Linked DNA regions of Homo sapiens. The protein of the gene in region 2 purifies or fractionates together with the protein of the main gene of each other region. This does not show direct contact. Each region holds a gene or a part of one and is shown on either strand. Other genes may lie near its edges.

Region 1 (3,821 bases), on a different chromosome or scaffold from region 2:
ATTTATGAAAAATGATCATTTCTAGTTGCAGCTAATTTACTACTTGATGGCTAAAAACAAGTCACACAATAAAAGAACGACTTTCTTCTTTAAAAGGTGCATTTTGCTTGTATAATACACACAGATTTGGTGAGGCAGGTAAAGTGGATTTACACATAAACATGAACTCTTGTTAAAAAAAAAAAATGCAGGTAACTGTAAACCAACTATTTCAGGTAAAAACACCAAACGGGGAAAACAAAGATAATTTTGGACATGATTTTTTTTCCCACTACTATTACCAGTAACATTTTAAAGCAGAAACACAAAATCTTGTTCCACATTAACCTACACACACACAGAAAAAAATTTGTTAAACTTATCAAATAGAAAAAGAAGGCAAAATCAAGCCCCTGGAAAATATTTTATTCTGAAAGAGTAAAAATGTCAAAATTATAACAGACACTACTCTTCTTTGGTAATGAAGGTTTCATATATTTACCACAGCAGAGAAAACTCCAAATCGGCAGAGCAAAGAAAGGACTGTGAACAAGACTGATCATTTAAAGGTCGTAAAGGTAAGGAGCAAACTACAAAATTAAATTTTTTTAAAAAAAGAACACGAAGATGAAAGGAGAGTCTGTAAGTCACAGACAAGATAAGGACTGGTAAAATCTGCAAGGTCACTGGAACCTACCAGGTCACAAAAGGTGGAGGTGGGGGTTGCGCTGGGGGGGCGGGGGATGGGGAGCTGCAGAGTCGGTGAAGAACGGAGAGTGATAAAAACATGTCAGAAAAAGACGTTCCAAAGCTGGAGTCCTTGGTTTGCAACGCTGAAATTGGGGTGAAAGTCAGGGAACGGGCAATGAGTCCATGTATTTGTGTTTTCAGGGAGGTGTTAGGGAAAGGTGGAGGAAGGCGAAGAGAAGGCTAAGGAAGCCTAAGAACTGCGGCTGCAGAGTCACGGAAACACTTCGCTCCGCTCCAGGATCACTGGCACAGGCCTTTGCCAGGGCGAACTCCGGGCAAGACCCGTGACCCCACCCCAGAAAACTCCCGACTCCCGGGCTGGAGAAGGTAGCCAAGGTAGGGCGGACCGTCCCCCGACGGGTCCTAGGAGGGTCCAGCCCGGGGGCGGACGGCGCCGGGCGCCCAGCACCGCGGCCAAGGCTCAGGGCCCGTGCCCCCTCCCGCCCTGCCCATTCGCACCCCCAGCCCCGCGCCGCGCCGTCCTTACCCGGCGCGAAGCTGTCGGCTCCCGGCAGCCGGGCGGCCACGGCAGCGGCACCTCCTCCTGCGGCGGGCGCCCTCACCCTTCCGCGCCCAAGATCGCCATCTCGCAGCAGGCGCGGCGGCAGCAGCCACCCAGGCGTCGGCCCCGGCAGCCCAGGCCGCCAGCAGCCACTCGGAACCCGCACGCGGAGCTCGCCGACACCCGACCCTCCCCCCACCCCCACCCCGTCCACGCGCCACCCCCAGCCGACCCCACACCTCCCTTCCTCGGGAGCGCGCCGCGTGGCCGCGTCGCCGGCGCCGCGCCCTAAGCGCGCGCCTCCCCGCCGGCCCCGGCACCGCGCGCTACGCCGCGGCCGCCCAAAGCCTCCAACTCCGGACCCGGAATCCGCCTCCCCCGAGCATGCGCAGCGAGGGCGCTCGGATGCTGCCTTAGGAAAACTCCGCTCCTCCGGGTCTTCCGAGCAGTCTAGCGGAGGGGGACGGACAGCCAATAGTAGGGAGGGGCGGGGCCTGAACGTGTGGAAGGGGCGGGGCCGCCGCTGAGATTTGGGAAGAGGCTGCTCTAAGCTCGCGCTGGGCACTGCTAATTTGACTTTCCGGTCGGCGGCTGATCCCGGAGCAGGACTTCTTAAGGTCCGGGGGCAAAAGTAGGCTGTCCATAAATACTCCTTGACCTAGCTGGGTGACCTCGAACACATTGCAAGAGTAAATAATTGCATTTAGCCATTGGTCATACCCGAAGACTTTCAGTCCATTTTTTATTAATCAAAACGTTCATCTGTGGAAGCCCCACCACCTAGTCCTCACTCACATCAGCCCGGTGATAAAGCAGATACTTATTGACCGAGTATACGTGTCCGCACAATTAACGCACACAACAATCTGACAAAGTAGTGTCTACTGTCTGCATTTTACAGAAAAGTCAACTAGTTTAGAAAAGTACTGTTGGTTATGTGTATTGCTTTTAGAAGAAAGGCCAATGTGCAAATAGAAGTCAGTGGGACCACATTGCTTACCAGGTGACCCGGTTTCTACTTCAGAGAAGCAGAAGCCTTCAGGCATGGATTTCTACAGCTTTTGCCCAACCACCTGACCAACCCCCATAGATTATATCTACGTCCACACCCAGACTTACTAGTTTTCCTTCTATCTCGGAGGCTAGATGTCCCTGCTCCTCTCCACTGCCTGCTCCCCACTGTGGGCGGTCCTTGGCACATCTTTAACTTCACCCTCTCCACTGCCTACAACTCCTCAGCATAATCACGTTTTAAGATTAGGTCCTAAATTTTCCCTTGATTTTAAAACCTCTGGTTCTCTCTCCCCTTCCATTTTAACTGAGCTTTTTGAAAGAACTGTGTACCAAAAACAACCCCAACACTTCATGAGTGTGTACAGAATTCAACAAGTATCTCTTGACTGAACAATGCACATTCCCGCCTACCTCCATGCATTAGTTCTTGTCCTCTGGCTTCATAGTTGAAATTGGTGCACATTATATCCACAAAGATCATTCGAAAATATACATCTGTGTCATTCCACTGCTTAAAATCATTCTTTGGCTTTTCGGAGCTCTCCTGACAAAGATTAACGTGATATTCAAGGTTCCTTTGATGCTCACATGCTCTATCTCTCCTGTTATGAAAAACTCTTCACAGTGCCCCATATGTGCCCACTCATCTCTGCTTTAAACATGTACTAAGATTTTCTTCATCTTTTTGCTTTTGCTGTCTGGTCCCTTTAAATAGATGCAATAATGTGCTTACAAACACGTCCTCAGAAATTCCGTAGGTATTCCCCAGCAGGGATCTGGACTCCTTCTCCAGAATGCATGCAGGCCTCCTCTTCCTGCTCTGTGTCTCACTTTCAGCTCCCCTCATTGCTCAATTTCCTCCCCGTTCAGAAGCTCTTAGTACTCACCTAGTCCTCAAGCTGACACCCAATATTGAACCAGCCTTTTGTTATTGACTGTTTGGTTTCAAATGAACAATATTATAAATAGTATTCCATAACCATTGTTCATGTCCTTATTAACTGTCTTAGATAAATTATTAAAAGTAATAAAAAAGTATGAACAAGTTTAGCCCTTTTGAAACATATTGGCAACTACCTTCCAGAAAGAGCATAGGCTCAGGTATCACATCGCCCAGCATCAAAACACAGCTCTGCCACCCAGTGCCACATTCTGACTTTCACAGGCCCTAGGTGCTTATACCTGTGTGGGCCTCATCTTCCATAAAATAATACTACAAAATATATTTTATTACTGCATTGGTATGAAGAAAAAGATATTAACATTATACATTAAAATATTTTCTTTGACCTAAATATTCAATTTTTTGCCTTCTGATTTTAAAAGAAATTAAAACATTTTTATGGGCCCCCGAAAGTGTTATAAGCCTGAGGCACTGTGTCTACTGTGCCTAATGGATAACCTGACCCTCCTGCTGCCTATGAGCTGAGAGATTTGGCCAATTGCTTAATCTAATTGTGTCTCAACTAGAAAATTAATATAGTGCTTCCACATGTTGTATTAAAAAATATATATAAATTGCTATAAATAACACGCATAGAGCTACTTAACACATGAGCATGGCACATAATCAAGA
Region 2 (3,600 bases):
TGCCCATAGTAACGACTCAATACGCACGAACTATTATTATTGTAATACACAGTCAAAGATAATCCACAAAGAGCATACACGGGGATAAAAGAAAATACACTGAGTTTCTGTTTGTATTTTAAGATGTATTAATTTCCCCATGGGCGAAAAGTGACTGAAAGGGGCCACAAGACAGGCTTCTGGGGTGCAGGTCAGGTTGCTTTTTGGGTGCTGGTGACATCATGTGTGTTTGTTCACGTGTGAAAATTCATCCTGCTGTTCGCTTGCGATTTGTGCATTTAACGTGCACTATCTCCAGGGACCTTCGTGGTTCTGTGAAGCACGAAGGGCAAGCATCCTCATCCGCGGTTTCAAACAAGAAACTGAGGCTAGGACCGCTACTTTAATTTGGCCAAAGTAGTAGGGGATGGGTGTGAGGAAGTGTCTCAGTCCGATCTTTCTTTCGGGGAGCAACGGCCACTCTCAGAGAGCGCAGCGCGAACAGTACCTGGTTCCAGGTAAAGCTCAGCAAAGGGTTCTGAATCCTCCTTGCAAATGCCACCCTTCCCCCAGCGCACACAGACTCTGGGCACGGCCGGGGGTTCGCACCGCCGCGCACTCCCCAGGCTAGCTCCACGCGTGGTCACTCTCCAGGGAGACCCGCCCGCCGGCGCCCCGCGGTCACCGCGGGGGAATGGCGCCCAGCCCCGGGCCAATGAGAGTAGCGGAATTTCTTTCATTCAGCGCGGGGCCAGGCTCCTGCCCGGAAAGGGGCGGGGCGCCGCGCCGGGGGTGGGGCCGCCGCGCGCGGGGGGAGAGGGCGGGGCCGGCCCCTCTGCCTGGCCAATCGGCGCCGCGCCCGGGGGGGGAGGGGGGCCCAGGCCTTTTTTCCCCTCCGCGCGGGACCAATCCCGACTTTACAAGCTTGAACTTTTGCCACCCTCGGACTAGCGAGCGCGCCCGAGGAGGTACCCCGCCGCGCCGGCTCCAGGGGCAGGAGCGGCCTTAACCCTTCCCGCGCCGGGCGTCAGGCTGCTGCCGCCGCGCCCCCGATCCCGCCCCCAACCCACCCCCATTTTCGCGTGGAAACCTCTCTAGGGAAAGCGTGATCCCTCACCTACAGCCCTCTCCGAGGTGCGGAGAGTAAACTTGAGAAGGGAGAGGAAGCACCCGGCCTGGAGGGGGCCCGGCCGGCCGGCGGCCCGCCTCGCTCCAAGGGAGGGCCGTGGCGACCGAGAGGAGCCAGCGAGTAGACACTCCCCGCCTCTACCCCACCCTCTCCATCTCCCCACTCCGGGCGAGCCTGGAGCCACCGTACGCAAAGCGTCCTGAGCTCCCTGTTTGGCCCGGCAGAGCGACCCCCGACTTTGTGCAAGGAGCGTAGAGCCCCTAGTGCAGTCACGGAAGATCCGCTACCCCAACATATCCGCCGCCCCCTGCTCCTCAGAGGCTCAACCCTGGAAGGCACACATGCACACCCATTTTTATTAGCCTACCCTAGGATGGGGGTTTGGAACAACTTTAAAGTGCAAAGTGTGTTTGTAAGTTTGTGCACAAGCCAGGGAGAGGCAAAGCGCCCCGTTTGCGTCCGAGTCTCAGTGGGTCCGCCGAGCCTTGCGCGCCTGCTCGTGGCTCGTGTAACCCTGTGTGTGTGTGTGTGTGTGTCCGCGCGCGCGTGTGTGCTCGCTCGCATCCGTGCTCTGGGCGCAACGCGAGGCAGAAAGCGGGCCGCGGGCGCTGTCAGGCCCTGGGCGGGGGTGCCGGGGTGGTGTGGGGCGGGGGCCCGAGCTCGGCCCGCCCCGGGAGCCGGCCCCTTGGAGCCTCCGGCCCTGCAATGGGACGTGTTCTCCTTTAAGAGTTAAGAAACTTGAAACCTTGTTTGCGCAACAATCAGCGCCGCGGAGCCGCCAAAGTGTCTAGACTGGCATATGATGGGAGGCAGCCAATGACTCCGCGGCGCTCCTCCGGGGGCCCTCAGTGTGCGTTTGAGGAGAACAAAAAAGAGAGAGAGAGCCGAGCGGGGGAGCGATCGAGGGAGCTGAGCCGAGAGAAAGAGCCGCCGGGCGCTGCCTCGCCAGACCTCGCTGGGACCCCGGGGCCACCGGGAGGCACTTTTGTGGAGGGGGGAGGGGGGGCGACCTCGGCAGCCTCGGCGCACGAAGCGTCCGAGGGCAGCGTGGGGCGGGCTGCGACCTCTGCATCGGTGGACTGCATTTTTAATTAAGGATTCCCAGCAGCTCTTTGGGATTTTTACAGCTTCCACTCATGTGTTGACACCCGCGTCCAGGAGAAACTCGCTCCAAGTGCATCTAGCGCCTGGGACCTGAGACGGCGTTGGCCTTTCGTGCATGCAAATCCAGGGATTTAGGTTTTGTTTGGGATTTCCTTTTCTTTCTTTCCTTTTTTTTTTCTTTTTGCAGGGAGTAAGAAGGGAGCTGGGGGTATCAACAAGCCTGCCTTTCGGATCCTGCGGGAAAAGCCCATGTAGTTAAGCGCTTTGGTTTAAAAAAAAGGCAAGGTAAAGGCAGGGCTTTCCAGACACATTTAGGGGTTCGCGCGAGCGCTTTGTGCTCATGGACCAGCCGCACAACTTTTGAAGGCTCGCCGGCCCATGTGGGGTCTTTCTGGCGGCGCGCCGCCTGCAGCCCCCCTAAAGCGCGGGGGCTGGAGTTGTTGAGCAGCCCCGCCGCTGTGGTCCATGTAGCCGCTGGCCGCGCGCGGACTGCGGCTCGGCGTGCGCGTGTTCCCGGCCGTCCCGCCTCGGCGAGCTCCCTCATGTTGTCGCCCTGCGGCGCCCCTTCGACGACAGGCTGTGCGCGGTCTGCACGGCGCTCCGCGGCGGAGCTTCATGTGGGGCTGCGACCCGCGCAGCCGGCGCCTCGCTGAGGGAACGGACCCCCGGTAACCGGAGACCGCCTCCCCCCCACCCCTGGCGCCAAAGGATATCGTATGTTCAGGTCCAAACGCTCGGGGCTGGTGCGGCGACTTTGGCGAAGTCGTGTGGTCCCCGACCGGGAGGAAGGCGGCAGCGGCGGCGGCGGTGGCGGCGACGAGGATGGGAGCTTGGGCAGCCGAGCTGAGCCGGCCCCGCGGGCAAGAGAGGGCGGAGGCTGCGGCCGCTCCGAAGTCCGCCCGGTAGCCCCGCGGCGGCCCCGGGACGCAGTGGGACAGCGAGGCGCCCAGGGCGCGGGGAGGCGCCGGCGCGCAGGGGGCCCCCCGAGGCCCATGTCGGAGCCAGGGGCCGGCGCTGGGAGCTCCCTGCTGGACGTGGCGGAGCCGGGAGGCCCGGGCTGGCTGCCCGAGAGTGACTGCGAGACGGTGACCTGCTGTCTCTTTTCGGAGCGGGACGCCGCCGGCGCGCCCCGGGACGCCAGCGACCCCCTGGCCGGGGCGGCCCTGGAGCCGGCGGGCGGCGGGCGGAGTCGCGAAGCGCGCTCGCGGCTGCTGCTGCTGGAGCAGGAACTCAAAACCGTCACGTACTCGCTGCTGAAGCGGCTCAAGGAGCGCTCGCTGGACACGCTGCTGGAGGCGGTGGAGTCCCGCGGCGGCGTGCCGGGCGGCTGCGTGCTGGTGCCGCGCGCCGACCTCCGCCTGGGCGGCCAGCCCGCGCCGCCGCAGCTG
Region 3 (3,821 bases), on a different chromosome or scaffold from region 2:
AGAAAATAGGACTTTAATTGACACAGCTCCTGATAAGCTGAGGGAATTTATTTATAAACAGACAATGTAACAGGGTGTGGGCAGTAGTGGAAAAGAACCCCAAGGGTATTGCAGTAAATCCAGGTTAGCAAAAGCAGGGAAGTTATTCGAGATTACCAGAATCTGGAAAGAAAGAGTTATATAGAGAAGAATACCTTGGGAAGAGCAATGACTTTCAGTGCAGGAATACAGGCAGCCCAAACTGATCTCACAAAAAGGGAGCCAAGGAAATAAATACCCTCACTCCCCACCCTCCCTCTACTCTCTGCTGTGGCTCCCCAGTGACCTACGTTTTTTGGAAGTCAAAGTTGTTCATCCAGGTTATTTTCCCTGCAGACAGCATGAGGTAGAAGGGCTGAGAGTGGTTCTGGAGTGGCAACCAAAATATATCTGACATAGAAGCCAATGGTAATAAGAACAGTTTTGGCAAAATGGGGCAAAACAGAATATTCAGATACAGAAGAAACTCTTGACAAATTGAAGAAGATCAAAAGAAACAGTGGAAGAAAATTACTAGATACATAAAAATGAAATGATGCCACAACTGTCTGCAAGCCCATCTGAGCACTGCACCACGTTCCATAATAAAGGGAAGGATTTCAGGACAATCCTCCATTATGTGGACTATCATGGCTAAATGTGTATTGGAAAACAGAAAAGTAGCTAGTTTCAGAAAAAAGAATTGATGATAATTTAATACATTTTATAGATGGTCATAAAGTGTACTAGTTAGATAAAATTCACTGATTTCTATCAAGAGATTAATTTAGACAAAGGCAACATCATTACAGACTTCCTTGGAAACATTTTACATTCGTAAATCATCAAATTAACTAGTGACAGATGTGTCTGTACTTGTTTAAGTTCATATCTATCTAACTGCTATAAAAATGACTAAAATGTTTATCTCAAGACAGCCAGGCAAGAAACGTTATAAACAGATATACTGGATTGTATCTTTTTTTTCCTTTAGCCGATAAGTAAATACAATCTCCAGAAAATTCATTTCCAAACTTGCTACTTAATATCTTCCAAAGCTGACGCCACATGCAGCCATATCCTTGTTGAAAGACAGGAAAAAATAAAATTGGCTGAATCAAAACTACTGGCCTCTAAAGGAGTGCATCCAACAGCACTGCACAACTATTTACTGAATGCCTACTATGTCCTAGCACTTTGCAAGGGGCGGGAGTACAATGATGTGTAACATCCCGATCTAACAATGCAGACTTTATAATGAATTCTTTCAAGAAGCATCCAAAGTTTCCAAAGCTGAGGGTTAGAGGAAAATGACACTCAGACCTAATTAGAGGAATTCTGCCTCACTTCCCTTTTTTTATACTGACACACTTTACTGAAAATGAAGAGATGCTCATTCAAGGATGCTCACCACTCTGCTTTTCAGAAAGAACCAAGCGTCTCAGTGTAGTCCAGGAATCATCTCTAGCACTAAGAACCTTACTGCAACACTTCCTAGGACATACTATAGGCTCTCACGTGGAAGAAGCTTGCAGCCCATGAGATATTTGAGGTGAAGTAAAGAAGTGGTATCTGGGAACTCTAAGAAGGTGCTGAGGTCTGAAATTCAAAAGTAAAAGTAACTATTGAACCAGTGAATTGCTGCAATGTAGATCCTGGCACACCCCCAGCCCCCAGCCCCGCAAAAAAAAAAAAACAAAAACTGATGATTCAACTCCATGATTCTTCTATTCCACGATAAGAACAATGTCTGATCAATCTCTCAAGGTTCCACCCTTGGCCAAGCCAACAAACTCTCAGCTACATCATTTTCATAGCCACCCACATGGCCTTATTCAGGTACTCTTGCTCACACTATATACAGACATGCTAAATCATATTTGTTCACTTCTCTGTTTAAAATCCTCCAGGGTGTTCAACAGAATGTACTTTGAATAAAATACATATTTTATACTACGAACCTCGCCACCTCTCTGACCTCATTCCTATCACTTCCTCTAATTGCCTGAGTCCAGCCTCCCTGGCCAGTGAGTGCCTAGCTTGCTACTTTTAGAGACAACCCTAGTGCGTCCTCTGATAGGAAGTTCTTTCAGATCTTCACGGGGTTGGCTCTTTCTTGTTACTCAAGAATATCCTTACAGAGGCCTTCCTTGACCACCTCATATAAAATAGCCCAGTCACATGCTGTCTTATCACCCTGTCTTGTTTTCCTAATGGCAAATTTCACTATTGGAAATAATCTTATTCATGTGTTTGTGGATAGCTGATTGTGTTTTCACTCTCTACAAGTTCAATGACAGCAAGGATCTGTGTCTCTTATAGTCACAGTGTCCCCACAGTGTATAACAGTGCCACACACAGAGTAGGCATTCAAACATTTAAGTAAAAATGAATGTAATTAGAATATTGGCATGTAAGTGGATGTCCTGAACATCATGAAAACAAATTATTGCCTGATGTAAATTATACATTATCCCTTCTTACCACTGTGATGGGCTTTAAAAATACCCAGAAATAACATAACAAAATGTCCTTTTTGTCTACTCCTAAATCTTGGCTTCTCTCTGTACTCTATGCCTAAAAAGTTTTATTTTCACTCAATTTAAGTTATTAAGTCATATAAGCGACTTTTTAATCTACCTTTCTAGCCGCAACCCCTCCTTTCCCTGAATTCTGGCCTGCCTATACATATCTCAACAATTCTACTTCAGTTTCTGCCATCATATAAAATTCAGCATATGGAAACCTGAAATTATTAATAGTATCTCTAAGGCAAAATCAGTTTTTCCTTCTGTCTTTAATACTTTCACCAACCATCCTCTGAATACCCATATTTAAAAGCTAAAAATGATCTTGATTATGAAATTCAAGAACTGGAAGAGGGACTGGAGGACAACAAGTAAAGTGGTCTTCAAGTTTTTTTAAAGCTGTGTTAGCCTTTTTTAAAACAAAAGCTTACCAGGAAGTCTGATATGTAAAACAGATGAATTTGCAGTTGTTCTGGGAGTTAAACTGGTAGTCTCTGAAGAAAACTTCAAAAAGAACCACTAATCTGGTCCAAACTTCCTTTTTCTTCTCCCTAACCCCCTTCAACACACACACACACACACACACACACACACACACACACACACACACAGAATTATACAGCGGAAAATGTAAGTCCAGAGAGCTTAAATCTTCTTTGCAGGTAAGAAATAGTAATTCTGCCCAACACAGTTATCACCCAGAACAATGCCTACCACATAGAAATAATTTAGGAGTCAAGGTTCTTAAAGATCGGTGTTACCTCCATGCTTACATGCATCAGAAATGATTATCAGTTATTGCAAAGTGATACATTTCATGCACGGCTTTTATTGGATGACATGAAAAGAAATCTTCAGAGTTTAGAGTAAAACTTACAGCTTCTAATTATAGACATATTTACCCACTTCTAGTGAAAGAAGTCAAACATGAGTCCAGTGAAAAGAATTGTGGCACCGTGAAAAAAGTAAAGTCTCAATTCCATAGCCATCCTAGCCTCACTTTCTATTTCTGAGCATGGTTTTTCAAACTCTCTGGGCCTCATCCTCTTCATCTTTAATATTATTAATGTGTGTGATGACATGCTAAGACTCTTTCAATCCTAAGTCTATGATCTGCTATTACACTATTCTTAAGTATTTTCCTTGAGCTACTGCATCCACAAAGAATCAGTATCACAAGTTAGAGGTAATTTGGAAAAGAACCAATCGTCCTACAAGGATTTCTTGAGTATCTATCACATACCAGGTACTGTGCTGGGCATCTGAAATTCAGAG

The links.
Region 1: the proteins of SMAD6 (region 2) and WWP1 purify together in Homo sapiens (affinity purification with western blotting; 3 studies listed by BioGRID, with this or other methods). This does not show direct contact.
Region 3: the proteins of SMAD6 (region 2) and BMPR1B purify together in Homo sapiens (affinity purification with western blotting; 2 studies listed by BioGRID). This does not show direct contact.

Annotation. Positions count from the first base shown.
Region 1 is NC_000008.11:86,340,326-86,344,146, reverse strand, and holds the start of WWP1 (NEDD4-like E3 ubiquitin-protein ligase WWP1), read right to left. Parts: upstream 1,601-3,821; 5' UTR 1,217-1,600; exon of another isoform or gene 871-1,216; intron 558-870; exon of another isoform or gene 487-557; intron 1-486. UniProt on the Homo sapiens protein: E3 ubiquitin-protein ligase which accepts ubiquitin from an E2 ubiquitin-conjugating enzyme in the form of a thioester and then directly transfers the ubiquitin to targeted substrates.
Region 2 is NC_000015.10:66,700,331-66,703,930, forward strand, and holds the start of SMAD6 (mothers against decapentaplegic homolog 6), read left to right. Parts: upstream 1-1,905; 5' UTR 1,906-2,928; coding exon 2,929-3,600. UniProt on the Homo sapiens protein: Transforming growth factor-beta superfamily receptors signaling occurs through the Smad family of intracellular mediators. SMAD6 is an inhibitory Smad (i-Smad) that negatively regulates signaling downstream of type I transforming growth factor-beta.
Region 3 is NC_000004.12:94,760,752-94,764,572, reverse strand, and holds part of BMPR1B (bone morphogenetic protein receptor type-1B isoform b precursor), read right to left. Parts: intron 1-3,821. UniProt on the Homo sapiens protein: On ligand binding, forms a receptor complex consisting of two type II and two type I transmembrane serine/threonine kinases.